Homo sapiens: one gene and its partners. The protein of the gene in region 1 purifies or fractionates together with the protein of each later gene. This does not show direct contact. Each region holds a gene or a part of one and is shown in the gene's direction. Other genes may lie near its edges.

What was found.
Region 2: the proteins of SLC39A5 (region 1) and SLC25A51 purify together in Homo sapiens (affinity purification with mass spectrometry; 2 studies listed by BioGRID and IntAct, with this or other methods). This does not show direct contact.
Region 3: the proteins of SLC39A5 (region 1) and ULBP1 purify together in Homo sapiens (affinity purification with mass spectrometry; 2 studies listed by BioGRID and IntAct, with this or other methods). This does not show direct contact.
Region 4: the proteins of SLC39A5 (region 1) and LRFN1 purify together in Homo sapiens (affinity purification with mass spectrometry; 3 studies listed by BioGRID and IntAct, with this or other methods). This does not show direct contact.
Region 5: the proteins of SLC39A5 (region 1) and PIP4P2 purify together in Homo sapiens (affinity purification with mass spectrometry; 3 studies listed by BioGRID and IntAct, with this or other methods). This does not show direct contact.
Region 6: the proteins of SLC39A5 (region 1) and METTL9 purify together in Homo sapiens (affinity purification with mass spectrometry; 3 studies listed by BioGRID and IntAct, with this or other methods). This does not show direct contact.
Region 7: the proteins of SLC39A5 (region 1) and ULBP3 purify together in Homo sapiens (affinity purification with mass spectrometry; 3 studies listed by BioGRID and IntAct, with this or other methods). This does not show direct contact.

Annotation. Positions count from the first base shown.
Region 1 is NC_000012.12:56,228,766-56,232,850, forward strand, and holds the start of SLC39A5 (zinc transporter ZIP5 precursor), read left to right. Parts: upstream 1-1,285; 5' UTR 1,286-1,357; intron 1,358-1,474; 5' UTR 1,475-1,530; intron 1,531-1,951; exon of another isoform or gene 1,952-2,065; 5' UTR 2,066-2,108; exon of another isoform or gene 2,109-2,135; intron 2,136-2,438; 5' UTR 2,439-2,509; coding exon 2,510-2,796; intron 2,797-3,923; coding exon 3,924-4,085. Other genes in the region: NABP2 (SOSS complex subunit B1), read left to right, coding at 249-448. UniProt on the Homo sapiens protein: Uniporter that transports zinc(2+) into polarized cells of enterocytes, pancreatic acinar and endoderm cells across the basolateral membrane and participates, notably, in zinc excretion from the intestine by the uptake of zinc from the blood into the intestine.
Region 2 is NC_000009.12:37,901,328-37,905,536, reverse strand, and holds the start of SLC25A51 (mitochondrial nicotinamide adenine dinucleotide transporter SLC25A51), read left to right. Parts: upstream 1-1,409; 5' UTR 1,410-1,469; intron 1,470-1,979; exon of another isoform or gene 1,980-2,006; intron 2,007-4,209. UniProt on the Homo sapiens protein: Mitochondrial membrane carrier protein that mediates the import of NAD(+) into mitochondria. Mitochondrial NAD(+) is required for glycolysis and mitochondrial respiration.
Region 3 is NC_000006.12:149,962,652-149,966,742, forward strand, and holds the start of ULBP1 (UL16-binding protein 1 isoform 1 precursor), read left to right. Parts: upstream 1-1,291; 5' UTR 1,292-1,398; coding exon 1,399-1,483; exon of another isoform or gene 1,484-2,831; intron 2,832-4,091. UniProt on the Homo sapiens protein: Binds and activates the KLRK1/NKG2D receptor, mediating natural killer cell cytotoxicity.
Region 4 is NC_000019.10:39,318,064-39,322,005, reverse strand, and holds the start of LRFN1 (leucine-rich repeat and fibronectin type III domain-containing protein 1 precursor), read left to right. Parts: upstream 1-1,142; 5' UTR 1,143-1,213; exon of another isoform or gene 1,214-1,516; intron 1,517-3,647; 5' UTR 3,648-3,680; intron 3,681-3,942. UniProt on the Homo sapiens protein: Promotes neurite outgrowth in hippocampal neurons. Involved in the regulation and maintenance of excitatory synapses. Induces the clustering of excitatory postsynaptic proteins, including DLG4, DLGAP1, GRIA1 and GRIN1.
Region 5 is NC_000008.11:91,016,860-91,020,359, reverse strand, and holds part of PIP4P2 (type 2 phosphatidylinositol 4,5-bisphosphate 4-phosphatase), read left to right. Parts: intron 1-96; coding exon 97-203; intron 204-1,846; coding exon 1,847-1,970; intron 1,971-3,500. UniProt on the Homo sapiens protein: Catalyzes the hydrolysis of phosphatidylinositol-4,5-bisphosphate (PtdIns-4,5-P2) to phosphatidylinositol-4-phosphate (PtdIns-4-P).
Region 6 is NC_000016.10:21,620,077-21,623,576, forward strand, and holds part of METTL9 (protein-L-histidine N-pros-methyltransferase isoform 1 precursor), read left to right. Parts: intron 1-3,500. UniProt on the Homo sapiens protein: Protein-histidine N-methyltransferase that specifically catalyzes 1-methylhistidine (pros-methylhistidine) methylation of target proteins.
Region 7 is NC_000006.12:150,063,338-150,066,121, reverse strand, and holds part of ULBP3 (UL16-binding protein 3 precursor), read left to right. Parts: coding exon 1-223; intron 224-448; coding exon 449-724; intron 725-1,408; coding exon 1,409-1,515; 3' UTR 1,516-1,537; intron 1,538-2,770; 3' UTR 2,771-2,784.

The DNA of each region.
Region 1 (4,085 bases):
AGATAACTACAAGAGAAAAATACCGTACCGAGGTTCATGTAGCAACTTCCTAAATGATCGTGTAAGTCTTCTCTGGAGCTCCATTCATACTCGCAGCCCACAGTCTTTTGCATTTGGTCCAGTTGGCATTAAGATGCAGTTGTGCATGGTGAAGACTGTGCCACTCTTTGGGGCATGGAGACAGGCCTTGGGATGGACCCCTCTCCTATGTTAACTAATTCCTTTGTTTCTTCTCCTCCCACAATTAGCCTCTGAGAACCAGAATGGGAATGGACTGAGTGCCCCACCAGGTCCCGGTGGTGGCCCACATCCCCCTCATACTCCCTCCCACCCACCCAGCACCCGAATCACTCGAAGCCAGCCCAACCACACACCTGCAGGCCCGCCTGGCCCTTCCAGCAACCCTGTTAGTAACGGCAAAGAAACCCGGAGGAGCAGCAAGAGATAGCATGACATTCTTTCTTCCTGCCACCAACCACATCCCAAGTGTCCCCTGGAGAGCAAGATAGCCTTCCACTGATTGGCTGGTGTAGCAGTATTTTAGCCACTGAACTTCAGTGGAGGGTGGTGAGCAGTGTCCTTATCCACCCTAATCTCATACTCCCTCATTGTCCAGCTGAACTACCTGTCCCCTGGGAGTCAGGACCCTCTGCCTGCTCTCTTTCCTCTTTAGAAATGGCAGTTACTGGCTGGGCGCAGTGGCTCACGCTTGTAATCCCAGCACTTTGGGAAGCCGAGGTGGGCGGATCACCTGAGGTCGGGAGTTCAAGACCAGCCTGACCAACATGGAGAAACCCCGTGTCTACTAAAAATACAGAATTAGCCAGGCATGGTGGCGTATGCCTGTAATCCCAGCTACTTAGGAGGCTGAGGCAGGAGAATCTCTTGAAACCGGGAGGCGGAGGTTGAGGTGAGCCGAAATTGCACCATTGCACTCCAGCCTGGGCAATAAGAGCGAAACTCCATCTCAAAAAAAAAAGAAAGAAAGAAAGAAAGAAAGAAAGAAATGGCAGTTACCATCTGTTTCTTCTGTGTGAGACATGGGAGTCTAACTGAAGTCTCTCCTTCCTAATAAATGTTACCACTCTACTCTGTGTTGGACTCCTTTGCTTTCTGTGGGAAAAGGAAGAGGTTAGCAACTAGGCATTTGGGAAGGTGGGGTGTCCCTAGAAGGTGGAAGGAAAATAGGTTACAGGTAAGGAGGCCCAGGCAAAGCAGACCTGCCCCTTTAAGGTAGTGTCCCTCCCCTACCCCCTCCCTGCAGGTGACCCTTGCCCGCCTGCCTGCCTGCCCCCCCAGCTGGAACCAAGAAGGTTGTGTCCCCCTTCCTCTGGGTGTCCTTGTCTCCTGCTATCAGGTAATGCCAACCTCAACCCCCTGGACCAGTCACCCCGATCAGACTTTGCTTGCCTGATTTTAGGCCAGGTCAGACATCAGAGGAGAGCCCAGATCCTTGTTTCCTCTCCCCCCGCAGGGCTTCCCCTTTCTTGGTCATCGATCCCTAGAGCTCTGGCTCTTTCTCTTCTTGGGGTGAGAAACTGCTAAGAACAGTTTATTTCCCATGCATGCATCTGGGCTTGCCACTGATCTGCCTTTTCCCCCCTCCTCCCCAGGTTAGGGACACCTGGGTCCAACCTTCCCAAGGAATATGGGGATGGGGGTTGGAGATGAAGTTTAGTGCTAGACTGTAAGGTAGGTGGGGTGGAAGTACATGAGGGAAAGGGCTAAAATGGTACTAATGGTGTTAAGGATAGGGTGAATTATTTAAGAGGAAAAAGACTAGGCCCAGGTTCTCCTTAGCCATGTGGCTTTCCCAGGGCAGAGGGTGGCCCCTCCCTACCCAGGGGCCCAGCAGAGACTGACTTTTGATCCCTACCCCAGAGACCAGTGAACCATTAACTCCTCTCTTATGTGAGCCTTCACACACTGGCCCCACCCCTGACCCCGCCCCAAGGCAGGTGGGCTAGGAGGGGGTGCATGTCCATCTCAGCCTTCTATGTGACGTGGCCTCCGATCCACCTGGACACCTGGAGGCTAAGCCTGGATTCCCCCTTCCCTGACTCAGGAACTGCTTAACGTCTACAGCAAGGCCTAATAGGGGACCTGAGGTGACAGCTCTTATGTTGCCAGTAGGGGTGAGGCCCTGGGGATTGAGGGGGGATAAAGAGGTGGGGCAAAGTTGAGGGGTGGGGTTTAGGGGACAAGGAATGGACGGTCAGCTCTGGATGAAGTATGAGGAGAGCTCTGACTCAGGGAGGTGCTCCAGGAACCAGCAAACAAGAGGCTGCTCCCGCAGGAGGCAGTGTGAAGGGAGAAAGAAGGCTGCAGTAGGGGCTGCTGCTGGACTCGGTGGGGAGCAGGTGCAAGGAGCTCTGGCTCCCCCATGGACCTGAGCTGGAGAGCAGAGCGCAGCTCCAGCCCATTCCTCATTCTTCCAGGGCACAGTCCTCAGGATGTTTCGGGGAGAATAGGAGCCAGAACCTGAGCCCCTAAGCTATTCCCCTCACCAATGATGGGGTCCCCAGTGAGTCATCTGCTGGCCGGCTTCTGTGTGTGGGTCGTCTTGGGCTGGGTAGGGGGCTCAGTCCCCAACCTGGGCCCTGCTGAGCAGGAGCAGAACCATTACCTGGCCCAGCTGTTTGGCCTGTACGGCGAGAATGGGACGCTGACTGCAGGGGGCTTGGCGCGGCTTCTCCACAGCCTGGGGCTAGGCCGAGTTCAGGGGCTTCGCCTGGGACAGCATGGGCCTCTGACTGGACGGGCTGCATCCCCAGCTGCAGACAATTCCACACACAGGTACTGACCCCTTCCTCCACTCCACAGGGCCACATCTCCCAGGTCCTCTCAGTGCTTGCCCCCAGTTGCCTCGTTCTGGCTTCCTCACGAGATCCCTGGAGTTACAAATTCTTCAGAACCGAGCTCCTTGGTATCTCTTCAAAACCTCTCATGCTTCTATTGCCTTCTCTCTCTTTTCTTGAGACTGGGGGTCTCGCTTTGTCACCCAGGCTAAAGTGCAGTGACACATTCACGGCTCACTGCAACCTCTGCTTCCCAGGCTGAAGCCATCCTCCCACCTCAGCCTCCTGAGCAGCTGGGACCATAGGCACACACCACCACAGCCGGCTAATTTTAAAAATTTTTTACAGAGACAAGGGTTTCGCTGTGTTGCCCAGGCTGGTCTCAAACTCCTGGGCTCAGCTCAGCGATCTGCCTGCCTCAGCTTCCCAAAGTGCTGGGACTACAGATGTGAACTACCACCCTAGCCCTCCGTTGCCTTCTAATTCTCTCCTCCTCCAAATCTCTAAGCCCTTAAATTTCTTGCTCTTAGTATCACTGTTCAGTGTCTCTGGGCTGATTTGGCTCCAAATTCGTAGACTTCTTTTTTCTTTTCTTTTCTTTTTTTTTTTTTTTTTTTTTTGAGACAGAGTCTCGCTCTGTCGCCCAGGCTGGAGTGCAGTGGTGTGATCTTGGCTCACTGTAACCTCTGCCTCCCCGGTTCAAGCGATTCTCCTGCCTCGGCCTCCTGAGTAGCTGGGATTACAGGCACACACCACCACGCCGGGCTAATTTTTGCAATTTTAGTAGAGACGGGGTTTCACCATTTTGGTCAGGCTGGTCTCGAACTTCCAACCTCAGGTGATCCACCCACCTCAGCCTCCCAAAGTGCTGGGATTACAGGCGTGAGCCACCGTGCCCAGCCATTCGTAGCCCTTTTGGTTGTCGTCCTTTTTTTTCTGTCCCCCCCAGTGGCAGAAAATGGACAACTCACAGATCTTCCTAAGAATGACATTCCATGGTTTCTGGGTCCCAGGATCTCCAGTCAGTGGCTAGTCCCCCCATTCCCCCTAAAATCCCTGGGAGCCTCTCAAAGCGGGTTGATAGAGAACACAAGGGAGGCTGACTTGCTGTCTCATCCATTCCAGGCCACAGAACCCTGAGCTGAGTGTGGATGTCTGGGCAGGGATGCCTCTGGGTCCCTCAGGGTGGGGTGACCTGGAAGAGTCAAAGGCCCCTCACCTACCCCGTGGGCCAGCCCCCTCGGGCCTGGACCTCCTTCACAGGCTTCTGTTGCTGGACCACTCATT
Region 2 (4,209 bases), on another chromosome or scaffold:
CCCGATTAACTGTTCTAAGCCATTGTGTAGCCTTGTCCTTATCCTGCGGAGTCCAAAATTTATCCCTCGCGTACTAATTAGATGGCAGGTGTCTGTGTCTGACAGTCAAGATTCGCATTATCCAGCCCCACCACCTGACCCTTACAATCTTATCTCCTGCTGCTATGACTTTCTCCACTGGGCCAAATTCCACTCATCCATCCTCCAAGGCCCAGTTCAAACGTCTGCTCTGTGAAGCCATCTCTGGTTCTCCCTCGAGGGGGGAGGTCCCCTCATGCTTCTGAATTTCCAGTCTTTTGTTGTTGTATCCTTCATCAGACGCTAAGCTCCCCAGGACCTGGCACGCAGTAGGTTCCTCAATGGAGCGTTTGCTGGAATGGGGGAGGGTGGTCTCCAGCTTCCCGAGAGGCACCTAAGCACGCCAGCCAAAGTGGGGCTGGGCAGAGACCAGACCCGCTTTTGGAGTCAGTGTCTACAAAGTGCTCTCGGGGGAAGGGGGCACGCGGGGAACGTCGCCCACCCGGAGCCGATCCCCCCAAGAACGCTTCACTCGGGTGGGGTTACTGCTTGGGCTCGCCCCAAGCACAGTGCGCACACTTCACACATCCGCAAGCCTCCTGAAACGCCTCTCCCCTCAGGCCGACCTTTCTGTTTCCTTCAACGCCTCCCATCTGTTGTGTGCGTTCCAGTTTCCAACTCAGAGTCAGAACCATCATTTCCAAAGACTCCTGCAACAGCCCGAGGACGCATACAAGGCATGGGTTACTTTTCAGACGGAGATTTGGGGCTCAGGGTCCAGCGACTCACCCAAGGTCACTCTCAAGAAGTATGAGGGCTATGACTTTGACCCAAGCCTTCTAACTCCCCGGGCAGCGCTCCTCCCAAGCCCCCCGCAAGCTGTCTGAGCTTCAAAGGAAAAAGTTTAAAAGTGATCCATACGTCCCAAAGCACGCACAAAGCGTTCTTCTGTAAACTGCGGCATGGGTCGCTGATAAAAGGTCCCTCTGAAGGTTTGAAGATACTCAACAAGGCTCCACAGAGGGTACTTTGGAGTTTTCCGCGAAGGCGCTCGCCCCGCAGAACCGACAAGGCCCCTAAAACCGACAATGCCCAGACGCCCCCTGCAGGCAGCGCGCTAGAGAACGCGTTGGCTGTTTCTGGCACGCTGAGGCCACCGTACGGCATCAAGGGTGAAGCATGGTGGCTAGCGGAGCCCGCATCCTGACAGGTGTGCTGGCGTGGCCCTCTACCTGCCCCGCCGCGGCGGCCTGCGGCCAGGAGAAGTAGGCTGGCGACATCTGGCGGGCCGCGGGCCGAGGGAGGGGAGGCGGGGCGGGGCGGTGTCTCCCTCACGTGACCCCAACAGCGCCCAGCGCGTCGCGCTGCGCCCCAACCTCGGGGTCGGTCACAGTCTGCGCCTGCGCGGGCCCCGGCTCGCTAGCCGTCCTGCGGGACGCCGGCGCTGATGGGTGAGTGTGGGACGAGCGTGGGGAAGCACCGGGCTTTCTTCGCATGAGGTTGGAGGGAGGGGAAACGCGCTGAAGGGCCCGCTGGGGCAGGCTGCCGCCCTGGGGGCCCATCCCTGTCTTCTGCGCGCTCCGGCTGCCCTGGCCCGGTCCCTGCGGGCCCCACCCAGGCGGCGCGGGCGGAATCAGTTCTGAGCCTCCTCGGCTCCGGGCTCCCCCGCCTGCCGCGGGTGTTTGTCCGGCTGCTGGGCGACCTTTCCCGCGAAGGCGCTGTCCCTTCATTCGGGCGCGCCCTGGGCTGGGGAGGCACCTCCCTGGTGCACAGGAACCGCAGGGGCGGGGAGGAGCCGGGAGCTGCCTGCGCCCGGGGGACAGCGGGGATGGCACCGCGCAAGGGCCTCTGCGTCCCGGGAGACTGGGATTTCGGCCTCACCTCGGGACCCCTGACTGTGAAGTGTCAGAAACGGAAGAGGACTTAGTGATCTTGTCCAACCCCCTCCCCGCCTTTCACAGGTTGGGGAAATGGACGCCTGGAGAACGGTAAGTTCAGCTACATAGCCTGGCAGTGCTTGTTCTGCGACAGCATATTGCATCGCGTTGTAGGAAGCTCACTTGTACAAGGATTTTCGGGGACGATGGTGTTGGTGGTGTTAGTCTCCATCCATTATTTGGTGTTCAGTTTAGCTAGATGGAGTATGTCAGCACCTCAACTTCCTGCAAAACCTTTGTTTTGCATCTCACAGCTCTACCTAGCTGATCTTAATTCCCACCTTCTGTTTTTCTCTACTTGTAATCTCTGAAACAGAAGCCCTTGAAATGTATAGTGACCTTGCCATTTTGAGCCGCCTCTGCCCGTGCTTTGAAAGGATTCCATAGGATCAAAAGGTGCTAGGACTCTTGAGGTCCCATAGTGGTTTAGAGCACAGGTTACCGCTTTGGAACTGGAATCACCCTTAGCGCATCTCAGGGGAAAACAAGCTAGGAGTTGACTCATCTGATCTCTCGTTTGGTAAATGAAAGCAAACTCAGATCAGTGGATTTTAAAATCAGATATTGCTTTGTCTTTATATTGGCAAGCTAGTGTCGTAACTAGGACTAGACCCAGGCTGATCTTGTTCTGAATGCTGACTCAGACCTGCTGACTAGTGGAAATTCACATCCTTTGAGAATTGGAGTCACCCTCTCCCCAGTTTTTGCAGAGACCTTTGTGCTAGGATCATATCTGTATCATGCTGATCCATGTAGGCTGTAAATTATAATAAGGTTTTAGACTTTACACTGTTTTCTTAGTCACAGAAGCTTGACACTTGTAGTTGCTTGAAAATCAAGTTCATTAACTGCTCCCTTATGATGAGATAGTTTTACGTAGCAAACAAGCGTAAAGTTATGGTAAATAAATTTTGCAATAAATTGCAAAGAATTATCCACATTAATGAATAAAAATATAAAGATCAGTTTAGCAAAGAAATTTAACCATGTTCACAGTATAGGTAAACATGCAAAAGTCTAAACTGTACTACCAAATAATGCTGTGCACATTATCCTTCTATTGCTAAATTAAGAACATATTCACACCATCCTGGTGTGTAGGATTAAACTAGAGAAAAAGCTTTAAATCTGTAAAGTCCAGGAGGGTTTCATAACATTTTTTCCCCCATCTAGGCCTATTTTTTAAATCTGAGAATCTCAATGTACAGTAATGTTCTTAAAATAGTTGGATATGGTGGTCAATAAATGGTTAACTTCTGTTAGCTGTAGTTTTCTGCTTGTTTAATAACAGTCCCCATTCTCACACAGAGTCATAAATAAACTAACCTTTATTTGCAAAATTTCAGAAAGTAATACAAGTAACATTCCAGTAAAAGTGAACATGGACAAAATTTTTATTGTTGTTCAAGTACACAAATAACTTGGCTTGTACTGTCAAGGAGCATGTGTAAACAGCTTGTAGGTGGTGACTTTAGAATTTAAAATATTTTGTGTGCTCCGTATGTAAAAATAAAATGGTTTTGACATTCATAAATTGTCACAATATCATGTAATCATGTACATTAATCTAAATATTCTTGTTGATTTAACATTGTTTAATTCTGAAACTGAAGAAGTGCAAAGCATTACATAGGTATCAAGCATTTCTAGACTAAGTTTTAGGACTTCAAATATTGATTAATCTTAGCTTGTAAGTGTACTAATAAGAGTTTTTAACTCATACCTATCAGCTGAATCAGTAAAAAGTAAGGATGTAGTAGAACTAATAATTATCAAACTCAATACCCTAACAGACTTCAGTGTCTAGAACATATCTTGAAGTTAATCATATTAAGCCCCAAAACTCTGTACATTAAGAAAGGGAGAGGAGAGAGGGAACAGATGATATTCTGGAACCTTTTTTTTCCCTTTAATCTTATTTTTACTGTGAATAACAACACTAGACTCACTGAAGATTTTGGGACACTTACTAGCAAGCATAGTTAAGACAAAATGCCAACTCTCTTAAATAGTAATAAGAGTTTTGCTCAAAGAAAAGTACACAGCCTTAAACAGTCAAGTTATGAAATAAAGGATAAAAATAGTTGTCTCACTTAAGAATTACAAGAAAATAAGCCAGGCACAGTGGCTCACACCTGTAATCCCAGCACTTTGGGAGGCCAAGGCAGGCTGGATCACTTGAGCTCAGGAGTTTGAGACCAGCCTGGCTAACATAGTGAAACCCCGTCTCCACTAAAAATACAGAAATTAGCCG
Region 3 (4,091 bases), on another chromosome or scaffold:
AGGGACTTCCCAGTGGCCTCCTCCTAGGACTAACCTGAGCTCCTGCCCCCAGCCCTGTACATGGGAGGCTTTTCTCACACACAGATCCCTGGGCCCACCAAGCTATTCCCCTCCCAAATCTGAGAACTGCCCACCCCCGTGTGACTGTTGTCCTGCCGACCACCCTTCATGTAGCCCCTCCTGGACAGAGGCTCTAGTGCATCAGGCCAGAACCTTTTGGCTCCTGTGTCCCTGCTCAGTCACAGAGATGGCTGCCATCCCATGTCCCTGTCCTGAAGCATAGTCAGGCCCTGGGCTTGGTCCAGGCCTCCTCCCCTTTCCCACAGCCTCAGGACCCTGGTGATTGATGGTCACCAGGTGAAGGTCTCCCCACATGAAGACTGTGTGGAGTGGGAGGTCTGTGCCTATTTTTCTCATTCATTGGGGAATGGGCTGAGTGGCTGGGGGCAAAGTGGGACTCAGGGGCTCTGCCCAGTCCTTACTGCAGGCTAAGCCCTCCCTTGCGGCCAAGAGCCACTGGGCCCTCCACCTCCCTCTGGCTTCTACCCGCAGATCTAGATGGTTTCATGGTGACTCAGAGGAGGATGCACTCGGGCGTCCCTTTTGAGGATGGCTGCAGGGACCATCCAGGGACTGAGCCGAGGTGCAGATACAGCCACGGATTTGGGTGTTGTTAGACACAGAAGGGTGTGTAGCAAAGTGAGCCCCACGCATGCGTAGACTCTTCCCTCGGCTTCTGCTCTCCATGGAAACACAACTGATCACATCATGATTGATCACGGTAGCCCTCTAGGGCTTTCTTTCTTTTCTTTTTTTTTTTTTCCAGAAGTCATAAAGGGATATAGAATATACTCAAAGACCACCTCATGCTTTTAGTGGAGAGGCAAAAAAGGTTCGCTCCGGAATGGGGAAGCGGCTGCGCCCTGGACGGAGAGGGGCGGGGACTTCGCGACTGCAGGCGGAGGGAGGGCGGGTGTCGCTGGCGCAGGCGGTGACAGGGAGACACCGCCGCCACTGAGTATTCCTATGCAAGTTTCTTCATCTTCCTGTGCATCAGTGTTTACACTGGGGTAATGATAAATGCTGTGTTGAAAAATTATTTGATGGGGCCATGGAAGGAACGGAAGGAACGGCGTCCTGGCCCGCTCGGGGCCCGCGCACGCCGCCACCAAGCCGCGGGGGCGGGTCGGAGGGGAGAGTTGCGTCAGCCAGGCCGCTGTCAGATGACGAGCCCGGGGCGTGACGGGGTGGAGCATCCCCAAAAAAGTGCATGCCTAGGATCCCGCCCAGTGTATCCCTGCGCGCGGCGGGCCGGGCTGGGCAGCTTTATAAACAGCCGTGGTGTGAGCCTCGAAGGGAACCATCAGCGCCTCCTGTCCACGGAGCTCCAGGTCTACAATGGCAGCGGCCGCCAGCCCCGCGTTCCTTCTGTGCCTCCCGCTTCTGCACCTGCTGTCTGGCTGGTCCCGGGCAGGATGGGTCGGTGAGTTCGGGGATGTAGCCTAAGCAGGGCGGGGGCCAAACCTGGGAGGTTGTGGACTGCAGCGGGTTTCAGAGGAGGGGAGGCTTCTGGAAGGACCGGCGCGATCTCCCTGAACGAACATCGCGGTCTCCCCGAACGTCGCGGTCCCTCCGAACGTCGCGGTCTCCCCGAACATCGCGGTGCCCCCGAACATCGCTGTCTCCCCGAACATCGCGATCTCCCCGAACATCGTGATCTCCCCAGACATGCCCAGCTGAAGGCACTCAGTTCCCCTCGGTGGCTCCTTTCCGCCGGGTCCGCTTCCTGCGGCTGCTGCTTGCCCCTCAGGCCAGGAGGTTTCTGGAAGGACCGGTGCTGTCTCCCCGAACATCGTGGTCTCCCCGAACATCGCGGCCTCTCCGAACATCGCCCTCTCTCCGAGCAACGCGATCTCCCCGAACATCGCGGTCTCCCCGAAAATCGCGATCTCCCCGAACATTGCCATCTCACCGAACATCGCGATCTCGCCGAACATGCCCGGCTGAAGGCACTCAGTTCCCCTCCGCGGCTCCTTTCCGCCGGGTCTGATTCCTGCGGCTGCTGCTTGCCCCGCAGGCCAGGAGGCTTCTGGTAGCACCGGCGCGATGCCCCCGAACATCGCGTTCTACCCCAACATCGCGATCCCTCCGAACATCGTGATCCCCCCCGAACATCGCCGTCCCCCCGAGTAACGCGGTCTCCCCGAACATCGCGGTCCCCCCGAACATCGCGGTACCCCCGAACATCGCCGTCTCCCCGTACATTGCGATCCCCCGAAACATTGCGATCTCCCCGAACATCGCGATCTCGCCGAACATGCCCGGCTGAAGGCACTCAGTTCCCCTCCGCGGCTCCTTTCCTCCGGGTCCGCTTCCTGCGGCTGCTGCTTGCCCCATAGGCCAGGAGGCTTCTGGGTGGACCAGCGCGATCTCCCCGAATATCGCGGTCTACCCGAACATCGCGGCCTCCCCGAACATCGCGGTCTCCCCGAACATCGCGATCCCCCAGAACATCGCGGCCTCCCCGAACATCGCGGTCTCCCCGAACATCGCGATCCCCCAGAACATCGCGGTCTACCCGAACATCGCGGCCTCCCCGAACATCGCGGTCTCCCCGAACATCGCGATCCCCCAGAACATCGCGGTCTCCCCGAACATCGCTGTCTCCCCGAACGTGCCTGGCTGAAGGCACTCAGTTCCCCTCCGGGGCTCCTTTCCGCCGAGTCCGCTTCCTGCAGCTGCTGCTAGCACCGCAGTCCAGGGGGAGTGTCAAAGAAGGCTGAAAAGGAATTGCAGGAGGGTGGAGGGACCAAAAGGCTACAGAGGGCAAGGTAGGGCGGGGATCCCTGGTGCAGACCCGCAGCCCCACTGGCCCTAGGGAAGGAGAAACCAGATTCCCGAACCCTAGCTGGGGTCAGGACAGGGGTAAAGGGGAGTTCCACAGGGACGCGATCACAGACTCCCCCATCAGCCACAGCCCTGCTCTGCTCTGACCTGCTGTTCACCACACAAAGCTTCCAGCAGCCCCAGGGCTCCCTGCCCTGGAACTTCGCCCCTACACTTTGCTGCAGACACTCACCTGCACGCAGGGGCTCACCAGACACTTGCTACCCTTCCCCTCACCATTCACTTTCACCACCCAGGTCGCATCCTTTCACTCCCCATCTCAGCTCACCCCTGTCACCACACAGGCCTCCCTCACCTCCCCATCCATGAAGGGGCCCTTAGCACCTCCCCCGACCAACTAGCACCTTGTCCCCTTTTGCCTGAGGACACACCCCAGCAAACACACCCCAGGCTTTCCACAAAACTTAATGCAGGGGGGACGGGAAATCCCATTTCCCTCACGATGACCCTGGGAGCGCCGGTGAGTAGAGGTGCCCACTTCTGCCCTTGGGTCCCAGACCCGCCTGTTCTTCCGACTGGGGAGCCAGGGTCATATAGAATAGTCACTAAGCAGACAGGAGTCAGCAAACCCTTTCTAGAAAGGAAAGGCTGAAGGCACTTTGGTCCTTGCTGGCCGTGAGTTCTCTGTCTGTGTGTCAAGTCCTGTCCCTTTGTAGAGCAACAGCAGGCAATGGTAACCTGCAAATAAAAGGGAGAGCAGATGTGGACCCTGTCCTAGGTTGCTGACCCCAGATGAGGGCACATGCTGTGTCCTGGCAATTGCTGCCCCATCCCCTAGGGTGTCATCTCCAAGTAGTGTAAGTTGAAGAGTCACAAGTGTGTCCTACCCTGCCTGTGGCTTCTGGGTGGTGTGGATGTGATGGATGTGAATGGAGGTCCTATGGTTCTGGGCCTACTGCGCCCCTCCTTTGCTGCTGGGTGGCATCATAGGTCCCTCAGGGCAATCAGGGACCCTCCTTAAAGCCTCAGGTGTGAGCTAAGGGTGAGGGGGTGCAGCCATGTAGTGTCCTGGGGATCGGGGCCAACTGCTTGTGCAGCTTCTTGGTTCCCTGTGGCCCTGCTCCTGCCCATCCCAGGAGACCCACCTGTGTCTTCTCACTGTGGGGCCTATATTCCTAATGACCTAAAGGGTGAGGAGCCCACCCTGTGATGGGCAGCTCTGAGGCTGTGTGGTCACTGCCCTC
Region 4 (3,942 bases), on another chromosome or scaffold:
TAGGAAGGAGCAAGGCATTCTGGGCTCTATGGAAGTCACAGGGAGGGGGGACTTTCAGGGTCCAAGAGAAAGAACTGGAGCAAGAAGGAGGCAGGGTCCTCAAGGGGGCAGGACTAGTAGGGGGTGGGAAAAAATTGGGGCTAATTGGGGAGTTTTGGAAACCAAAGGATGTCTTGGAGGAGAAGGAGAGAGAAAGGTGTAAGGTCAAAGGGGTGGAAGATGGTTTGGGGTCTAATGGGGTTCATGGGGAAAGTTTAAGGGTCTTCCATAGGGATAAGAGACATTTTAGGGCCCCCTAGAAGTTAGGCATGGTTTGGAGTTCATACTGGGGGTAAGGGAATGGGTTAGGGTCCTTGAGGGTAGAAGGACATGGCTGGGGGTCCCCAAGAAGGAGTGGAATATGATTTGTGGTTCTGGTGGCTGTAGAATGTGGTTTGGGTCCCCAAAGGGAGTCAGGCACCATCTGGGATTTGGCTGACATATGGTCTGAAGTCTCCCCCGATGTTAGGGTATGATTTGGGGTCCGTGAGGGAAGGGGTGTGGTCTGGGGGTCTATCTGAATGTTGGGATATGATTTAGGGTTGCTGGTGGGGTGGTCTGGATCCCCTTGGATGCTGGGATATGATCTGGGATTCTTCTGGGTTTGGGGGCATGGTCTGGGGTTCCTGACAGTGTGTGGGTCATAGTCTGAGGTCAAGCAGGAGAGCAGGGCATGATTTGTGGTCCTGGGTGGCCCTAGAACATCGCCTGGGTTCTCAAAAGAGGTGAGGCCTGATCCGAGGTCCCCCTGGGTATTAGGACGTGATGGGAGGTCTCTGTAGGGAGATCCGGGGTCCCTAGGCCAGTTGGGGCGTGGTCTGGGGGGGTCTCCGGGGAGGCCGGCGGGGCTGGGGGTGGGGCTGGGGAAGGGTCGGGGGCGGGCCCGCGGCGGCTCGGCAGTGGAGAGGGGTCTGCGGCGGGTTCGGGGCGGGGATCCCGGGTGTGCGACCGCCCCGCCCGGCCGCCCCCACCAGTCGGCGCCCCCTCCCCCCTTGCGGCGGCGGTGGCGGCGGGCGGCGCGGAGGGCGGAGCTCGGCTGCGGCTCGGGAGGGAGGGCGGGAGGCGGGAGGGAGGCGGCCCCGCGGCACCGCGCCCCCTCCCCCGGCCCTCCCCCCACCATGGCGCGGAGCGAGGCAGCGGCGGCGGGGCCGGGCCCGGGGCCCCCCCGGGCTGGGTGAGCGCGGCCTGCAGCGGCCCGGGAGCGGCGGGCGGGGGCGCGGGTGTGTGCGCGGGTGTGAGCGTGCGAGCGTGCGAGTGTGTGTCCGTGGCGCTGCGGCGGGCCCGGCGTGCGCCCGCGCGGCCCTATGTGTGCCCGGTGCCGGCGTGTGCGGCGCCCTGCCCGTGTGGCCATCGGGTGTGCGCGGGGTGTCGAGCCCGGCCGGCGTGTCCGGCTGTGCACGCGTGTCCCCCCGAGCGGCCGCCCCTCCGGCTGTGTGTCTGGGCGCTGTCGCGCGCCCATCGGAGGGGCTGTGTGCAGGTGTGTGTGTGCGTGGGTTGTGTGCCCAGGTGTGGGTCCCCCCCAAGCCCATGTGCGTGCGCGACTAGCTGCTCTGGGTGTTTGTGTCCGGGTTGGATGTCCATCCCCGGGTCTGTGGAGCCGGGTGTGCCCGCTCGGGTGTCCATTTGTGTGTGTGTGTGTGTGTGTGTGTGTGTGTGTGTGTCTGCGGGTTGTATGTCTCCGAGGGTGTGTATCTGTGAGTCCACGGCAGGTTGCTGGCTTGGGGGCTGAGGCTCGGCGCCCAGGCCTCGGTGTGGATTTGGGGGAGGGGAGTTCGCCGCTCCCTCGGTCCATGTCAACTGGGGGGTCCTTAGCGGTCCTGGGGGAAGCGGCCATGTCTTCCCCTTCCCGGTGGTTGCGGGGGGGGGATGGGCGGCCAGGAGGTGGACAGATGGAGGGGGGATGAGAGGCCGAGAAATGGACAGATGGGCCCTGAGGTGGGGGTTGGGGGGCGAAGACCCGGCCCTTCCCCACCCACTCCACCCTAATTCCCCCACCGGCCAGACATCTGCAGACGGAGCCAGAGTTACCTCCATCCTGATGGCCAGGCTGGGGAACCTTTGGGGCTGCTGGTGGGAGGATCTCCTTGAAACGGTGATCTAGGACTCAAACCCCCAAATCCTCTTGAGTTTCCACCTGCTGAACTCTGACCTCTGGCCTGGCTTTTGCCCTGGTTTTTTGGGGGTGTGGAGGGCAGGATGCTGAATGTGCTGCAGGGATGTTAGGATTTCTTGGGCCTGGGAAGTAAGTAGGTGGGGTGGTGGGGGGGTGCCTCAGGGCTGGGAGGAATGTGTGTCCAAGACTGTGTGAGTGTGAATCTGGGCCTGTCTACTGACTGTGCTACTGTGGTTCAGTATTTTCTATGCATTTGGAAGTGTGTAAATCACAGGACTGTTGTGTGAGCATGTGTCTGTTATGAGTGAACATCTTGGCGTGTCTGCAAAGGTGGATCTTTTTGTGCCTGTGTGCGTGTTCCAGTGTGGATCAGCCTCGTATCTGTATGCTTGTGGTTTTGTGTGTGTGTGTGTGTGTGTGAGGTATGTATCTGTTAGCGTGGTGCTGTATCAACTTTGCAACATGGAGATGTGTGAAGTATGAGTGTGTCTAGGCATTTAAGAGTGTGCACTTGTGTATGTTTGCACAGGTGTGTGTGTGTTTGTTAGATGTGTGTGCCCCTGTGTGCTGGTGAGTGTGCAAGGTAGATCTGTTGTAAATGCATGTACCTGGTTGTCTGTTAGGGGGCACATGAGTTTCTCTGTTGTATCTGTGCATTTGTGTGTGTGAACTTGCATGGCAGAGTCAGTGTTGTACATGTATTGTTGCATGCAGGTGTGTCAACCTTGAGGGTATGTATCCATCTATGTTGTGAGTCTGTTTGTGTTTTGGTGTTGGTCTCTGGGGGTTGTGTATGTTCAGACATGTATGTGAAAGACACATGTGTCTGTGCCCTGGCACAAGGCTGTCCCTACTCTTGGGTTCAGTGGGTTTGAGGCCCATGTGGCATGACCTCTGGTATACTGGGGTCCCGCCTGGGGTCCCTGGACACAGTGTGTCCATATGCCAGGCCAAGTGCCCATAGAGGGCGGAGGGCACACAGATCATGTTGCTATGTTCATAGAAATCCAGATGTAGAGACTTGGGTTGTGGGCTTGCGTGGGTTCTGACATGGACACACATGTTGGTGTGGGCAATAGTATCATGGCAAGGATGGGAAACTTTGGCCCTTCCCCAGCTCTTGGTACCGTTCAGGACTTTGGAGTTGAGGGGCTGGGATGTAAACTCTTGGGTTCTAATGGAGGGCCAGAGGTCTGGTCTGGACTCTTGGGTCAGAGGGAAGAGGGGGCTGGGGTTCTTGGCTCCTGAAACCCCAGAGGACAAAGGGCTAAAGTCCTCGACTCCTGGGCTTTGGAGGGTGAACAACCCTGAGGCCTAATCTAGGATTCCAGAGAGGACTTCTGGGTTCCTGTGAGACTATGCAAAACCCGCCACAGGAGGACTGAGAGCGTGATCACACCAGGGACTTCCTTGGCCGGGATGGTCTCCAAGGCAAGATCTGGTGCACAGAGAAGAGCCAGAACGATGCTAACAAGGTGGTTCTGTTCCTTTGCAGGTGCTGGCCCAGGCCCTGACTCCCTGAAGAGAGGTGAGTAGAGCCGTAAGGCTTCAGAGAGAGAGAGACATGGGGGGTGATGGGGCTTGCTGTCAGCCAGCTGGGGGTCTGGAACCCTGCCTCGCATGGATTTCAGTTCAGGGGATGACAGTTTCCTGAAGGACCAGTTGCCCACCACTCTGTCCAAGGCTGGGGAGTGGTGACAAGGTCAGGAACATCAAAGTTGGGTGAGGGCTTGTGGTGGCCAGGTGGCTCTGGGGAGCAGGTGGGGGGTTTCAGGCCAAGAGACATTCAT
Region 5 (3,500 bases), on another chromosome or scaffold:
AGTTTTAATGGAATCCTTTCCTTTTTAAACACAAACAAACTTTGACAATCTGTACTTTGGTTAATTGCTGTGTTTGCATTTTCTTCCCTTATCCAGCCAATCAAAAACCCCCCAACAGGCAAGAAATATGTTAGATGCCCTTGTAATTGTCTTCTCATTTGTAAGGACACATCTCGGCGAATAGGATGCCCAAGACCCAACTGGTAAGAGATAAAGATTAATTCATTGATTCATTCATTTGTTCATTCAACAAGTATTTACTAAAGGTTCTTCAGTGCCAGGCTTTGTTCTAGAAAGAGTTTTTGTTTTCAAAGTCATTCCAGAATCTAGATTATTTTTTTGTTAAAGGAATGATAAGCTTAGTTTGAACTTAGTCATAGATATTTGTAGGATATAATATTCTTAAATGAGCAATGAATGTTTTCTTTGTGTTATGTAAGTACTTAATGCACTGTAATAAATCAATGACACATTGAACGTATTTAAAAATAATGAGGTCAGGCCAGTGGTTCATGCCTGTATTCCTAGCAATTTGGGAGGCTGAGGTGGGAGGATTGCCTGAAGCTGGTAGTTTGAGACCAAACTGAGCAACATAGTGAGACCCCATCTCTACAAAAAATTAGCCAGGTGTGACAGCATGCACCTATATTCCCAGTTACTTGGGAGACTGAGGCAGGAGTATCATTTGGGCCTAGGGATTAAAGCCTTCAATGAGCTATGACTGTGCCTCTGCACTCCAGCCTGGGCAACAGAGTGAGACCCCATCTGTTAGTCTCTCTCTTTTTTTTTTTTTTTGAGACAGAGTCTCAACGGGAAGAGTCTCAAAAGAGTTGGCTCACTGTGACCTCTACCTTCTGCCCTGAAAGCCTTCCCACTATAGCCTCCTCCTGAGTAGCTGGGACTACAAGCACACACCACCACTCCCAGGTAATATATTTTTTTTTTTTTTTTTTTTTTTTTTTTTGTAGAGACAGGGTTTCACCATATTGCCCGGGCTGTCTTGAACTCCTGGGTTCAAGTGATCCCAAAGTGCTGGGATTACAGGCATGAGCCACCATGCCTGGCCCATCTCTTAAAAAAAAAAAAGTAATCACTTAGTTTACTTTTGATATAATTAATCTTCACCTGCAAGTGTTTTAGTTATTTTTGTGTATCTCACTGTATATTATACTAATCTCTGCTGAATGTATATGTGCAATAAATTCTGGAATTATTCGCTCATGCCCAGTACCATTATGGATGTCCCCAGATACAAGTATATAAAGGCCTTACTTGTGTTTTTTTTCTGTGATCTCTCTAGCTTTTTGACCATTACATGAATCATGTACAGCCCTATCCAATGATAGACTAGAGAATAGAAATGAAAGCAGGATCCTGTTTGCTTTCTTTTCATCTCTGATTAAATACGCATCAAGGAATATCACACTGCTCAGAGAAATTTGGTTGTAACCCAGCCCTTCGGTGCCTTCATGGCACAGAGATTTTTGTTGGTATAGAATATTTTTAACTTAGTCTTCTACCAAACTCAAGTTGGCTTCCTAGATAAGGAAGGGTAACAACTGTTTTCTGATTTGAACTTACAAAAACTTGGAAATGACAGTTAAATGGTTGCCATTGATTAGGACCAATGCTATAATATATTGTTTCTATCCCAAGTACAGACTCATATTTTGCTTTTGAAAAACTGACTGTTGCTACTCTTTGTAGTTTTGCCTCCAGCTTGACATTTAATTCACTTAATTTATGAAACAAGTATAGCACATTTCATATTTTTGGCCATATGTTGCAGGTTTTGCTCTCAGTCCATTTGTGGGATAGTGAAGTTGTTTCCTTTCTCTTTTCACAGTAGACGGATAATTAACCTTGGCCCAGTAATGCTTATTTCTGAAGAACAACCAGCTCAGCCTGCATTGCCAATCCAACCAGAAGGTACAAGGGTCGTGTGTGGGCACTGTGGAAACACATTCCTGGTAAGTCACTGGACATTTGTCATTAATCTGTAAATATAGGTCATGATCTTACAGATTAGAGCACTGCTCATAGTCTTATAGTTTTGTCCAAATGCAAATTAATCAAAATATTAAAATAGAGACTTATTTAGGCAGACAATCAGAAGTGCAACTAGGATATAGAGCATCTTCTGTGAACTAGATAAAAGGTACGTCCTCTGATAAGTCCAGTTGCAAAAAGGATCCTCTCTATGTAGGCCAATGAGAAATCGTGCCCAGGCTTAGTTCCATGAGTATCTTGGCTTGGGGAGCAGCTGAGTCTTAGCCCTGCTCTCACCTGCTCAGCAGAGGTCAAAGTGCACAATCTCATGCAGTAGATTTGCTTCATGGCTTCTAGATTGAGGAAAAATTTGAATAATAATTTATCAAAAATTTTCTGACTTTTATAAATTATTCTTGGAGCAAAGGGAATTAACACTGTTACCCATAATTAGATAAAACCATTAGATAAAGAATAAGAAAGTATAAGTAATTTGATATGAGCAAAAGTTATAAAAGTTTTTGTTTTACTACTTCTAACTTAAACTTAGTTTGATTTTTTTTAAAGTTAAATTCATAATTAACTTACCCTGTCAGGAAGGATAAGGACAGGTTTTCTTTTATTGTTCAGCCCATATAGGAGACAAACATTTTCTTTAGAACTTGAATATGAAAAATATTTATCAGAGTATACACATGGGAGTCTAAACAAAACCTGCTGTCACTAAGACATGAATGAGCTTAAGAAAATATAAGTGGTTTGCTTTTTTTTATTTGTAATTTTACTTTTATTAAAGAACTTTATGTATATAGTTCTAAATGTCAAATGGGACTGCAATCTTCTCATCTAGCTGACCCCTAGTTACTGTTCCCAAAATGCTTTCAACTCTTTCAGCTACTTTATTGATAGTCACTTCTATGTGTTTATTTTTTATAATTTTTAAATTTTTATTTATTTATTCATTTATTTTTTGAGATGAAGTCTCACTCCGTCGCCCAGGCTGGAGTACAGTGGCGTGATCTCAGCTCACTGCAACCCCTGCCTCCCGGGTTCAAGCAATTCTCCTGCCACAGCCTCCCAAGTAGCTGGGATTATAGGTGCACACCACCACACCTGGCTAATTTTTGTATTTTTAGTACAGATGGGGTTACATAATGTTGGCCAGACTTCTATGTGTTTAAATTGCTTATCCTTTTTCTATTTGATTAAGCAATTTTAGACATTACCCACTAAATAGTAAACTGCAAAATGAGAACTTAGCACTTATACTGCCCTCCCACTCATATTCCTTTCCTTGCTTTCATACTCCCAGTCAAATTGCAACATTTTGTTTAATTAATACTTAGTGTTTACAATTTTTATGATTAGGTAAATTTTGTTCACAGCTGAACCAAGCAATGTGGTACATTTTTCTTGTGCATGCATTTTAACATTTTCTTGGACTTACAAATAATTGCCCCCTCCTTTGGATTTAATTTTCTATGTGTAAATCATTCATTCTTCTCATATTC
Region 6 (3,500 bases), on another chromosome or scaffold:
ATAGGTATAGTCTCTGGTGTAATCAGGCACAGCTACGCCTTAGAAGTTGAGTTACAGCTTAGGGAGATCGACCTTCCTAGCTTGAACTGTTTAAGTCCTTATCACTGTCAGTGTTTAAATTGCTGTTAGGGTTGTTATAGGAAGAGACATAAGGAAGGTGTGAGTTTGAACTGAGTGATTTGAAAGCCCCTTAGCTTTAGCAAGCTGTCTCAGATAAGGTTCTGGTGGGTCTGCATGGTGATAATTGACATGTTTTCCTTCAGTTAGAGATTAATTCGGCATTTCAAAACTTAGAATGCTTTGACCTTTGTTATAACAGTGGCTTAAGTCAGGCTGAATTCCTAATCTGATTCCACCTCCCCCCCTTAAAAAAATCCATGCTTTGAAGTGGGTCGAAGAGGAAGGTGTTAAACCCATCTTCAGATGATTGACCGCCCCAGCCTTCTTTTGCTTTGATGCTAAGTGCCTAAATGGAATTTTCAGGGAAACTTCAGATGTTTGAAATTAGTAATATATCTGGAGTGTACATGGTATGTAAAGATATCTACCACATAAAAAATACTTGGTTTAATTTTTTCCCTAATATACAGCACATAAGCCAAAAATCTGCAGTTTGACCTGCATGGGAAATTCATACTGATTGGCATTCCTTTCATAATATTAGTATGAAGTGAAAACATTTTCACAAAAGTGGTAAATTTTGTGACTATTGGTGCAGTTTGAGGTTTTAATGAGGAAGTAGTATCTTTATTTCCTAAGATTAGAGGTCACCCAATCCAAGATGGCAAGGCAGACTTTCAGCTGAATTTTACATTTTTTTCTTCCTTTTGAGATTAGAGCTATTTTCTATTTCTCTTCAATATCTGGGCCATGAAAAACAGGCTTTTTATTAATTTATATATATATATTTTTAGAGACGGGTCTCTCTCTGTCACCTGGGCTAGAGCATGTGGCGTGATTATAGCTCACTGTAGCCTTGAACTTCCGGGCTCAAGTGATCCTCTCACCTCAGCCTCCTCAGTAGCTGGGACTACAGGTGCCTGCTACCATATCTGGCTAATTTGAGAGAGAGAGTGTGTGTGTGTGTGTGTGTGTGTGTTTTTGTGTGTTGTGTGTGTAGAGACAGGAGTTTCATTATGTTGACCAGGCCAGTCTTGAACTCCTGGCCTCAAACAGTCCTCCTGCCTTGGCTTCCCAGAGTGCTGAGATTACAGGCATGAGCAAAACACACCTTTTTAAATAAAGGTTCTGTAATTTTTTTTTTTTTTGAGACAAAGTCTCGCTCCATCACCAGGCTGGAGTGCAGTGGCACAATCTCAGCTCACTGCAACCTCTACCTCCCAGGTTCAAGTGATTAGCCTGCCTCAGCCTCCCAAGTAGCTGGGATTACAGGCGCATGCCGCCACACCCAGCTAAATTTTTTGTATTTTAGCAGAGATAAGGTTTCACTGTGTTGCCCAGGCTGGTCTCGAACTCCTGAACTCAGGCAATCCGCCCGCCTTGGCCTCCCAAAGTGCTGGGATTATAGGTGTGAGTCACTGCGCCCAGCCAAAGTTTCTGCATTTCAAAAATAGGTCAATAAACAGAAAATGGCCAGGTTTTTCCTTTGTATTCGCAAGTTGTCATTGTTTATGCCAGAAAACCCAATTGTAAAACTAAAGGATGTGGTTTTGATTTTTACAGCAAGACAGTTTTCTTTATATTGTTAGTGTTTCATTTTTTATTTAGGAATTATCAAAATACAGATTGCTTATTTCCTAAGTTTAGAGCTCTCCCAACCCGAGATGGCAAGGCATCTTTTTTTTTGGGAGACGGAATCTCTCCCTGTTGCCCAGGCTGGAGTGCAGTGGTGCCATCTCGGCTTACTGTGCAGCCTCCGCCTCAGCCTCCCGAGTAGCTGGGACTACAGGCGCATGCTGCCACGCCCAGCTAAGTTTTTGTATTTTAGTAGAGATGGGGTTTCACTGTGTTGCCCAGCTGGTCTTGAACTCCTGAGCTCAGGCAATCTGCCCGCTTTGGCCTCCCAAAGTGCTAGGATTATAGGTGTGAGCCACCATGCCTGGCCTTTTTTTTTTTTTTTTTTTTTGAGACAGGATCTTGCTTTGTCGTCCAGGCTGGAGTGCAGTGACACAATCATAGCTCACTGTAACCTCAAACTCTTGTGTTCAAGCCATCCTCCTGCCTCAGCTGCCCAAGTAGCTTAGCTAGGACTACAGGTGTGTGCCACCATCCTTGGCTATTTTTAATTTTTTATAGAGATGGGGTCTTGTTGTGTTGCCCCAGCTGGTCTCAAACTCCTAGGCTCAAGCGATCCTCCCAAAGTGCTGGAATTACAGATGTTAGCTACTGCACCTGACTGCTTTATCATTCTCTAAGGAGAAATATATTTTACATCCTTCTGGAAGTATTAACTCATTTTCTTGAAAATAATAATCACTTGAATAGATACCCTCATTCTAGGTTTAGAAATACTGTTTTAGAAAAAGGAAAATTCTGACAACTTGTTAGGATTCCTGGGCTAATACGCAGTTTTAGTGGGGCTAAGCAATTTGTCTTCATCAGTGGAACTGAGTGAGTTTACAAATAAAAATCACAAAACAGAAGTAAGAATGCACTTGAGCTTCTATAGGTATAGATTTAACTGTCTTAGTGTTAGTCACCTTTTTGTGTTATGAGCATATATTTCTCTTCCAAAATTACCAACACAGAGGCTACCTATCTGAAACTCATTCTGAGGTAGGTTTAGTGAGATTATTCTAGATTAGAACATGCTGATGATGTTTGGCTTCTGCTTCATTGCAGATAGACATCAGATTTTTTTTGTTGTTTTGTTTTTAAAAATCAAATATATAATTTGTGTTTTACAATTTGTGTCTTTAAATTGGCTGCTTAGCTAAGGCGTTAATATATACAAATAGTCCTTTCTTTATTCATTTCCATTTTTTAGAATGGGAATTGATGACATTTTTGTTCTGAAAGTAGTCTTCTTAGTAATGTTTGGAAACTCTTGGAATGAGCTAAATTGAATTTCCAAAATTGCTATTACAGTTGACTTAGTACAACAAAGTGATTTTAAAGCCTGAATGCTCTACTTATTTCAAACAGTATTTAGTGCAATGAAACACCTGCACCAGTAAGGAATCTGACTAGTCCCTGGAAGTTTGTTAGGCTGCTATTTGGAAGAGGCTTTAGTTTGACAAAAATATAGATTGAAAAGAAAATGCAGCTAAGTGCTTTGTGTTTTTAAAATTCTGCTATTCAGAAATGCTCTAAATATCATTATGCTAATGAGGTTTTCAAAACAACCCTCATTATACTTTTAGAATTTTCTGAGCTATCTTACTGTATCTGCTCAACATTACTAAAGACTTGTTTACCAAAGATCCTTTTTTTATGTTTCCTTTTTTACCTGTCTCTATCATAACATATCTCACCTACCACATTCTGATTGGTATAACCAAGCAGGAGTAAGTAATTTGTAAAATTGCCTAATTGTGTGG
Region 7 (2,784 bases), on another chromosome or scaffold:
CCCAGACATGGGCAACAGTGGTGTGAGGTCCAGAGCCAGGTGGATCAGAAGAATTTTCTCTCCTATGACTGTGGCAGTGACAAGGTCTTATCTATGGGTCACCTAGAAGAGCAGCTGTATGCCACAGATGCCTGGGGAAAACAACTGGAAATGCTGAGAGAGGTGGGGCAGAGGCTCAGACTGGAACTGGCTGACACTGAGCTGGAGGATTTCACACCCAGTGGTGAGTGAAAGAGACCAAGGACAGAAGGGAGCAGACTGTGGGCTCAGGGGCTGTTCTGTGTGTGGGGAGAAGAAATTAGACATGGGACCTCCATGAAGCCCAGCAGCAAGGGCAGGACTTGGAGGAGACAACAGGACCAGATGAGAATGGTCTCAGCATAGGAGGATGTGGGACAGGGAAGAGAATTTGTAAACACCAGGGCTGATCTCTTTCTGATTGGGGCAGGACCCCTCACGCTGCAGGTCAGGATGTCTTGTGAGTGTGAAGCCGATGGATACATCCGTGGATCTTGGCAGTTCAGCTTCGATGGACGGAAGTTCCTCCTCTTTGACTCAAACAACAGAAAGTGGACAGTGGTTCACGCTGGAGCCAGGCGGATGAAAGAGAAGTGGGAGAAGGATAGCGGACTGACCACCTTCTTCAAGATGGTCTCAATGAGAGACTGCAAGAGCTGGCTTAGGGACTTCCTGATGCACAGGAAGAAGAGGCTGGAACCCACAGGTAACTGACAGGGGAGCACTGGGAGCATGTTGGAGATGCCATCGAGTTACACCCTTGTCTGTCAGTGTCTGAGTATGGTGGGTGTGGGTGTATGGGTGTGAGTGGGTGTGAGTCTATGTATGTGTGAGTGTGAGTGTGTGTTTGAGTGAGTGTAAGAACATGAACCCCTCATGGGGGCCTCCTCCTTGGGGTGCCTATGCTCTCCCTCCTGACTCCTCTTCCTCACTGCACTTGCTTTTGCTCCACTCACTGTGGATTTCTCACCAGCCTCAAAACTGTGGGCGTCATTGTGTTTCTAGACCTTTCTCCTTAGATTTCCCTCCTCCTAGGATCACTTTTCCTTTCCTCTCCCTTGGTTTGTTTCTGGAAATCCATCAAAACCACCTCGAATGGCAGCCCCGAGACTCTCCTGTCCCGGCCCTAGGGCATCACCTCCTCTTCCGCCACAGCAGGAGGGTGGGCTGTGCTGTCACCTTGCTTCCCTCAGCAGCTGTGTGAGCTCCCTGAGGACAGGGAGCACCCCTTCTCCCTTCCTACCCCCAGGACCTGTCACAGCGGCTGCCCCACAGCAGGGGAGACAAATCCTCTGCCTTCCCGGATGACCTGGGGTAGCAGGAGCTAAGGAGCCATCTCCTCAGATTTGGAGCGTGGACAAGAGTTGTCACTTTTGTGTTTCCCTTTCAGCACCACCCACCATGGCCCCAGGCTTAGCTCAACCCAAAGCCATAGCCACCACCCTCAGTCCCTGGAGCTTCCTCATCATCCTCTGCTTCATCCTCCCTGGCATCTGAGAAGAGTCATTTAGAGTGACAGGTACTGTGGGCAAAACTGTGAGGGGAACGAGAGACAGATGGGTGAGGTGGGAGGAAGGGAAAGGAGAATTTCCAGAGTCCCACCTCTCCCCATGGCCGGGACCTTCTCGTTCTGACATGAGACAGGTGAATGAGACCTGGTGTCGCCTGTTTGCAATGACCTGGGCAGCTCAACCTTGAGTTCTGATGGATTCTCACCATCAGGGCCAGAGGGAAAGGGAGGGACCCATATCAAGGCTCAGGGCCGGTTGAGTTCAAGAGGGTTTAGACAGTTCAGGCCTATTTCACAGCAGGTTTCTATCTGGGAAGGGTAGTGGTGTGTGGCCTGCAGGCAGCAGGAACTCAGGCATGGGCAGTCTGCACAGTAGGAGAGGAGTAGCATGGCCACTTCACCAAGGATGTCAAGGGAAGGGGTGTCCCTGGAGGAGGCTAAGAAGAGAGAAACCTGGGGGAATCCCAGGACGAGGGGGCTGTGAGGGCCTTGGCCCACCCAGTTCCTAAGGCTGCATTCCCAGAGAGAGCACCTTGAGTCCCAGCAGTTAAGGTGGAAGGTGAAGAGTAGAGCGTGTCCAGGATGAGGTTTAGGAAATGGCCGAGCCCCTTGGACCCATGGGATTCCTGGCTAGGCCCTGGGACGATGCCACTGCCATTCTGCCTCGTGCACACTCCAGATCCTGAGCCAGCTGATGGCCCTGCCTGGAGCAGAGTGGACTCAGCTAGGGCAGCTGAGCTGCTGCTAGAGGTCCGTGGTCACCACTGAGCTTGGCCAGGAATGAATGGGGCAGGGCAGGGACAGTCCCATTCAGAGCTATGGGTGCAGCTCCCAGGGTGAGGAGAGGCTGAGAGCGAAGGAGAAAGAAGGTTTGCCTACAAACCCACCCAAGGCCAGGGAACATGGATCCAGAGACCTCTCTTTGGACAGGGCTCCCCCAGGTCCTCTAGACCCTTCTATGAAAGGGAGGAGCAGGCCCTGAGTGAGGGTGCAGACCCCTCATTACCAGCCTCAGGTCTGAGCCCCTATGGGCTGTAACAGGACCTGGGCTGCCTCTGTGGTGTGGTGAAGGAGGGTGGAGGTTGGGAAAGGCTGCACAGCCAGGGGTAGGGTTGGAGGGAAAAACATGTTCCTTATCTGGGGGAGAAGCTCTGAAATGGGGAGGGCCTGGGAAGGATCACCCAGGAGAACAGACCCAGGTTTTTCTCAGCCACTTAAACCAATGCTTCATCTTTCCTCAAGGTGGAAGGTGATAT